2 linked regions of the Homo sapiens genome follow. The protein of the gene in region 2 purifies or fractionates together with the protein of the main gene of each other region. This does not show direct contact. Each region holds a gene or a part of one and is shown on either strand. Other genes may lie near its edges. The genes, in order: PTPN5 and ANKRD20A1.

Region 1 (3,816 bases), on a different chromosome or scaffold from region 2:
GGGGAGGGTGGGACTAGAGGCCCCCAACAGATCCCTGCTACCCTAGGACTCCCCAAAGCTTACTTACCGTGGGTTCCAGCTGTTTCAGGAGCGTCAGCAAAGAGGAGACGAGGTTTGTGGCGTTCTGTGACCAGATGTGGCCATAACCGCTGAACCAGAGCACCCCACAGGCAAGCTGGGGCACAGGGGAGCAGGCTGAGTATGGAGCCGGCCCCCTTCCCCCGTGTTCCCCCAGCAGAGCTCACCTGCAGCCTCAACCTGGCCCTGCATGGAGGCTCCTGAACCTCTAAGGTCCAGACCGGGCAGCTGAGAGCAGGGCCCCGGTGCTGCGTGCCCGGGGAGGCCTCAGGACTCTCCTTGGAGAAAAGCTGACTGAAGGGAACCAAGAGAAAGCCCTTTCCAGAGAGGACCTCACAAATATGTACATCAAAAGAGTAGTCTCCTAGAAAGGCCTCCACAGACAGGAGTTCTCAGGAGAACCCTGTACGGCTGGGAGCTCAGGGGTCGGGGAGGCCCTGTGTTCTGGATTCTTAGGTTAGGGAGGCAGGGTGTGAGGTCTCAGATGCTGGTGCGGTAGCTCAGAATTCCAGCCTTCCCCTTATCCCAGCCTTGAGGGCTTGGAGCTCCTGAGGAACACCAGGGAGGCCCCTTATCCTCCTGCCTTCCAGGTGGCCATCCTGGGGAGGAAGTGGGAGGCTGGCCCTCCACCCACCCTCTCTCCAGACCCTTGTGAGGCCTGTGCCATCCTTACCAGGAACTGTGAGGCAGCGAACAGGCACAGGCTGCTCCTGACAGTGAGGGAGTGGCTCCCAGCGCCTCGAGGTGGTGGCTTCTGAGCTGGATCTGAGGGCGGCGAGGGAGGAGGGGGTGGCGGCATCTCTCTCTGTGAGTCCTGGAGCCCTTCAGCCTCGTCCAGTGCCTCCATCACTATCGGCTGGGGGAGACCTGTGGAAGATGGGCCATGCGGGCCGATGACTCCGGCCCTGTCCACAGGCAGGGCTCTGCCACCCCTTTTGGGGTGGCTGTGGCTGCCTCTCAATCTGGGATCAGTCAGCGTGGCTCCACTTCCAGCAGTCACCCTCGATTAGCAAAGCAATATTCACCTACCTTCGTCAGAAAGAGCTAAGTGTGGGTGGACAAATTATTTCTCTTTTATTTCTCCAGTAACAGAGTTAAAATGGCAGGAGGTTTTCCAGGGAGTTAATATAGTTGTATTTACGCAGCTTCATTCTTTTCCATTTCTTAAGGAAACAAAAAACAACCACCTCAAACTCAATTAAAAAAGAAGCAGCAGCAGGAAAAAAAAAAAGACATGGCATAACCAGGCCATGACCCTGAGCAACCCACCCATGCCTGCCCTGTGGATTTTTGTCTCATGTGGGCCATGCCCTAACTGGGGCTGGAGGCTAGACTCTTGACAAGACCACATCCATGTGCCCCCACCCCATCTCAAGACTCCCTGCACGATGAGAGGGGCTGGGGGCAGTTAGGGCGAAGTGCCGGAAAATCTTGGTGTAGCAGAATTGATACCAGATGTCTGGGGCCAGTTCTGGGTCTGTCCCTAGTGACTCCGGAGAGTCACTCCCTCTCTGGATCTTAAGTTTCCCCACCTGGAAGATGGGGTTTGGGTTCAACCCTAGTTTTTCTAACTGTGCTTTACAGAGCCCTAGTGTTTTCTCAGGTGCACAGGGGCTGAGGCCCTATGTCTGCCCCTCAAGGGCAGAAGCTCTGCCTGTCCCTGTACCATATACTGGATTTCTGCTAAGATTATTTCAAGGCAGAGTTCTGCTACTAAAGAGTCTGAATACCATTGGCTTAGATCTGAGCCCCTGGCTATAGCATGGGGATTCTAGCTGCGGCCACCTCAGTGAGTCCCAGATATTGGAGGTCTGCACCCAAACTCACAGGATTTAGTTTACTGTCAAGAAAAGAGGGACCAAAACATGGATGTATACAGTGTGACAGCTGGGAAGGGGCTGTCTACATATCATGCTGTATATGGGACAATGGACTTGGGTGACAACAGAACCATGTGGGCCCAGCATAGCCGTTTGTCCATGAGCTGCTCGCTCACTTGACAAACATTTACTGAGCACCTCCCATGGCCTGGATCAAGACTGTGGTGCAGAGAACCCGGTCCTGGAGCTGTGTTTGTAGCACAGGCTCCTGCTTCCCAGCCGGGCCCATTTCAGCTTCACTCCTTGCAGTTCCTCAGGTAAGCCCGCCCCCTATGCTTTGACATGCTGTTCTCTCTGCCTGGAACATCCCTCCAACACTCTGTTCCCCTCCCCTGCCTCCCACACACTTTGCCAAGGTAACACCTATTCATCTTGTAGACCTCAATCAGATGTCCCCTGAAGTAGGTCCTGCTCTATCACATACGAGCACCCCATGCCTCTCTTTCATATCATCATCATCATCAGCAGCAGCAGCAATATGCCTGGAATGTGCAGGGGCCCTTCTCTGTGTGCCTGGGTTAATTTTTTAATTCTTCACAGCACCCCTATGGAGTTGCTACTACTATTATCCCCATTTTACAGAAAAGGAAGATGAGGTGCAGAGAGGTTAACAGAGCTGCCCAAGGTTGCTTAGCTGGTAAGGGTAGAGGTGGCTTCAATCCAGGGCAGTCAGATAGGCTTCAGGCTACATTACACTTGCCATGGGTTGTAAAATAATTTTTGAATATCGTCTCCTCTACCCACCAAGAAGTTCCATGAAGGCAGAGTGGTATCAGCTTTGTTCATCCTCATGTCTACAGCATGTAGCGTAAGTCCTGGTGTGTAAGGCTACAATAAATGTTTACTAAATGAGTGAATGATGATGGGCAAAGGACACTCTTTTACTCAGTTTTTTTTGCCTGATAAATGGAGATAATAATACATACTTTGAAAAGCTGTTATAAATATAAATATATATATATATATATATATATATATATACATTTTTTTTTTTTTTGAGATGGAGTCTTGTTCTGTCACCCAGGCTGGAGTGCAGTGGTGCAATCTTGGCTCACTGCAACCTCCGCCTCCTGGGTTCAAACAATTTTCCTGCCTCAGCCTCCGGAGTAGCTGGTATCGCAGGTGTGTGCCACCATGCCTGGCTAATTTTTGTATTTTTAGTAGAGACAGGGTTTCACCATGTTGGCCAGGCTGGTCTTGAACACCTGACCTCAAGTGATCCACCCACCTTGGCCTCCCAAAGTGCTGGGATTACAGGTGTGAGCCACTGCGCCCGGCAGCTGTTATAAATATTTTAGATACTACAGACGAAACACCTAGCATAGTGTTCAGCATTTAGTAAGTACCCAATAAATGGCAGATTATAATGCTAACACATAATTAATTCTTGTCTTCAAAAGGCTCCAGTCTCGTGGCTAAAACAGACCAGTAAAGACATGTTTACAATACAGTGCATTAAGCAATAAATCTAAGTGCCAATGGAGTCTAAGAGGGTCACGAGAGGGTATCTACCTTTGTCCATGGAGGTTATAGTTCCTGACCACCTGAGCAGTCAGTTCAGATCCTGGGAGCAAGGTGAAAAAGGAAAAGCTACTGCTAAAAGAAGGATCACGTGGGAAGGCAAGAGTTGCTACTATTGATAAGCAGGGGGTTGATTTCTCAAGGGGCAAGGTCTCTGCCCACACACAGTTGACAGGTGATGCCAAATATGGAACGGTGGGAAGGGACAGACCCAGGGGTTACCTGGCTTCTGTGCCTTGGTTCTGCAGAGCACATACTTGGACCTTGGGCAATCCCTTCTTCTCCCTGGGTCTCAGTTTCCTTATCTGTAAAAAGAAGGGCTTGAACTAGAATTCAG
Region 2 (4,254 bases):
TGTATTCAATATTTATACTTAGAAAATATATGCAAATAAGACTTTCCAATGATTAATATTAGTATTTAAGACTGATAAACTTTCGAAAGAGCAGTTAAAGGTTATCTTCTACTATTTTCTAACTTCAGAAATGCTTTTGTTTGAAAGGTGGGAGATAAAGTTTCAAGGAGATTAAGTCCCAATATTCCTATTTTAAATCTCTCAGCTTGTGCAGGTGGGGCAGGTAAACATGAAGTGTTTAAGGATGGACGGGTCCTGAGAGATGACAGAATATGTCTGCTACATAGCAGGTACTCAGGTTATGCTTGATCCATAAATGGAATGAAAGAATGGATAAATACAGTTGGGGAGTTCATTATTTTTAAATAAACTCCTATAAAGCAATATTTTTGCAATAGTAATTATTTATATGTGTTGTTTTATTTTTAAAGAACACAATTAAAATGAAATGATTATGTTTGCATAAATGGAATGAGTATATAAGCAAAACATATGTACATAATAAAATATATAGATAATAAAATCTGAAACAGATAAAAACATTCCCTTTTTACTTCTGAAGAGGCTAAAAGCTCAAAGAAGATAACAACACACACAATAATGATAAAGAATAGAAAGTGAGAAATTATTTTCATCAGCGCAAGATTCATATTCCTCTCTTCCCAAGGATTAGTCCATTAATAATAAACTTTTACTAGAAGTTTTGTACTCACTGCAGCAATCACAGATAAGAAAAAGGAAAAAAACTTTACTTAAAATACAAATGCTCAGAAATTACAAATTTTATATTTTGTACATATTTTTGCTAAAACAAGACCATAGTATGTTTGTGTATGTATAATTTAACTAATTTTTTTCTCCTTGCTAGCTATAACAAAATACATCTTTGCACATCAACGTACTTCTGTATCTACTGCCACCTTCAGTGGTCACATATTATTCCATCCTATGGATGCAACTGAAATTTATTTATAGGATCCATTCTATGGGTTCTCTTTAAAGTAAGTACTGTGAAAAATAAAGTGCATGTATCTTTATTTCCTAAGGGTATTTTAGTATAATGGAATTGGTGGGTAAAGGGCATACACATTTTTTAAATGTAGTACTTACCATTTTCAAATGAGTACTTTGAAAAGTAATCAGCAACTTTAAGCAGCAGTATAAAACATCCTCACAAATATTGTGGATAGAAAACTGTTTCATTCCTCTTTTAGTTTAAATTCTTATACCAGAAATGCGAAGGATTTTTTCCTATGTATATAAGTAACTTGTAGATCTGGAAAAAGGTACTTTGCCCACTTTTAGAGTGTTTGATGATTTGATTTGAAAGAATTCCCTGTAAAATGAAGAGGTACTTTTCATCTAATGTGTATATATAACTGATATATATAACATATGTGTTATATATGTATACATATCAGTAATATATATATATCTTATGATATATAATAAACAACATAGGCCAGGCGCGGTGGCTCACACCTGTAATCCCAGCGCTTTGGGAGGTGGAGGCGGGCAGATGACTTGAGGTCAGGAGTTCGAGACCAGCCTGGCCAACGTGGTGAAACTAAATATACAAAAATTAGCCAGGCATGCTGGCACCTGCCTGCAATCCCAGCTACTTGGGAGGCTGAAGTAGGAAAATTGCTTGAACCCGGCAGGCAGAGGTTGCAGTGAGCCAAGATTGTGCCATTGGACACCAGCCTGGGCAAAGAAGCGAGACTCTGACTCAAAAAAAAAAAAAAAAGAATATAATGAATTCCCTATAAAATGAAAACATACTTTTCATCTGAAAAAAAAATATATATATATAATATAGTAAATATTTTTCAAGTAAGCTCTCTTATCTGAGAACTTTTCGCCCACTGAAACAACTCACGGTTATTTTTGATAGGGGAACGAGTTCTCTCATTAGGCACCTCCTATAATGTATATAAACCATGTTTTAAACGTGTACGTTAAAAATAACAACGCTGTATATGCTTAACTTTGTGAGTTAAATCACTCAAATTCTCCAACTGCTCCAGCCAGGGAATTATGAGGGATGGAAAACAGCTGAGAGTCCGTTTGGCTCCGCCGCTCCGAGGGTGCCCGGCGCCCTGCAAGGCCCCGTCCCAGGGTCTGCGGGGAAGCCGGGCCTGGGGGCCCCCTCCCACCCCGGGCTGAGCCCCCGCTACCTGTGCTGCTTGTCCAGGGCGTCCAGGTCTCCGCTCCTGCGCGCCAGGCAGCGCTCCACCTCCGCGGCGTCGCCTTTGACAGCTGCCCTGTGGATCTTCTGCAGTTCGGAGTCCCGGATTCGGTATCCGGAACCCGTGTAGACGTGGTCTATGGAGCCCTGGGCCGTCTGGCCCCTGCGGCTCCCGAAGCCGAATAACTTCATATTGGTGACTTCTTCTCAGACCCCCAACCACCGGCTCTTGAGCGGGGGCAGCTCCCTGTCACCTTTTCACCACCCCCCTCCCCGACCCCGGCCGACCCAGCCCCAAATCCCCTATCCAACCCCAAAGCCCCGATCCAACCCCAACTCCGCTATTTCAAATCTATGGTCTACTCCACAATCCGCGATCCAGCCCGGTCCACCACAGCCTTCAGCAGCGACACTCGCAGCCTCCGACCTCTCAGACCGAGTGAGCCTCGCAAAGCCGTTGGGCGCGCGCCTGCACGGCAGTTGCTGCCGAGCTCCCAGAAGACGGTCCCTGGCGGAGCGCGCCTGCACCGCGGTTGCTGCCGGGCTCCCGGAAGACGCTCCCTGGCGGCGCGCGCCAGCAGGTGGGGCTGCAGCTCTGGGCGTGCGCCGATGGGCTCGCCGGTTCTCCTGGGATCGCCCGGGCGGCCCCAGGATCGCAGGCGCGCAGCCAGCCCGGCCTGAGAAAGAGGGCCTGTCTGGCCTTGCAGCCCGCCCCGCTCCTCCTCAGAAGGGAGATAGGGTGCTGGCAAGGGCACTCCGCGGCCACCTGAGTGGCTTCGCGGATTGGCTGAACGCTGAGGCTCTGGCCCTGAAGTCTGTGTGGCTAGTGTCAGGTAGCTGGAGAGGGATGGAGGCAGAGTCAGGGGCTGCTCCTTCCCCCACCCGCCCTCACTGCTGCCAGTGCCACACGCGCGGTTTGCAGCTGCAGATCTGGCACTGGCGCAGGATGGCGGAGCTTCCTTTGGATGGCCTCAGGGCCGCAGAGCGCACAGCCCACCTGGCCTCAAGGTCCGCTCCTCTTGGACATCTTTCTGGATCCTGGGCCCTGGCGCTGGGCACTCTGTGTCCACACGGATGAAACAGCGGCTGCTGGCGGGGCCGGTTGCCTGATTTTGCCGCCTGGGGGTCTGGCCTCAGGATCCACGCTACTGCGGGGCGGGCCTGGTCTGGAGTGTCCAGTCACTTGCTGCCGGTGCACCACGTCTAGACTGCAGCTGCGGCTCCGATGCCGGCGTGAGCTGGCGGGCCTGGTACCTGATGTCCTCAGGGTCAAGTGCATCGCCCTCCCACTTGAGAGGTTGCTCTGACTTGGCCTCCTCCAAGAACGCAGGGGCCGCCGGGACTGGCTCTTCGTGGTAACCGGGATGGTACCGAGCAGCAGGTTTTCACCCTGGTGCCACTGCTGTGCGGACTGCCTGACTTGGGCACCCAGGCACCCGCCCCAGGGTCCGCGCGGCAGGTGTGCAGGTAGGGTGAGTGGCGCGGAGGGTCGGGGGTTGCTCCGTCATCTCTGCCCGTGTGCAACTTGCAGTTTTGCAGTTTTCTGCAGCAGCCGAGGCGCTGGCGCGGGAAGGCGGAGCTCCCCTGGATGGCGTCAGGTTTGCGGGCACAGAGCACAGCCCACCAGGCCTGAAGGTCCGCTCAGGGGCCATAGTGGTTGAGTTCTCTGTGGAACTGGGATGGGGTGAACGGCCAGTTCCCGTCCTTTGGCCACCTGGCCAACTGCCAGACTTAACCGCTGCCGCCCAGGAATCTGTCTCTAGCGTAGCCACTACTTGGGTAGAAGTGGGGGTCGGGGTGGGGCGTGGAGCGTCACCGGTTGCCAGGCCAGCACTGTCTTTGCAACATATTCAGATGGCGGCGGGCAGCTCGGGCGCCAGCATGGGCTGGCGGGGCTCCCCTGGACGGCCCTCAGGTCGCTCACAGCATTGTCCCAGGACTTCCTCGGCCTGTGCCAGGTGGGCAAGGTACGGGGGTAGCTTCAAAGGCTTCTATCCCAACTCTACCTATTTCTACCTATTTTCTCTTGAGTTATTTTGCCTTTATCTCAGTTTTATTTGCAAAAA

Evidence for each region.
Region 1: the proteins of ANKRD20A1 (region 2) and PTPN5 purify together in Homo sapiens (affinity purification with mass spectrometry; one large-scale study listed by BioGRID and IntAct). This does not show direct contact.

What each region holds. Positions count from the first base shown.
Region 1 is NC_000011.10:18,743,255-18,747,070, forward strand, and holds part of PTPN5 (tyrosine-protein phosphatase non-receptor type 5), read right to left. Parts: exon of another isoform or gene 3,702-3,816; intron 946-3,701; coding exon 752-945; intron 176-751; coding exon 68-175; intron 1-67. UniProt on the Homo sapiens protein: May regulate the activity of several effector molecules involved in synaptic plasticity and neuronal cell survival, including MAPKs, Src family kinases and NMDA receptors.
Region 2 is NC_000009.12:67,857,553-67,861,806, reverse strand, and holds the start of ANKRD20A1 (ankyrin repeat domain-containing protein 20A1), read right to left. Parts: upstream 2,877-4,254; 5' UTR 2,381-2,876; coding exon 2,178-2,380; intron 1-2,177.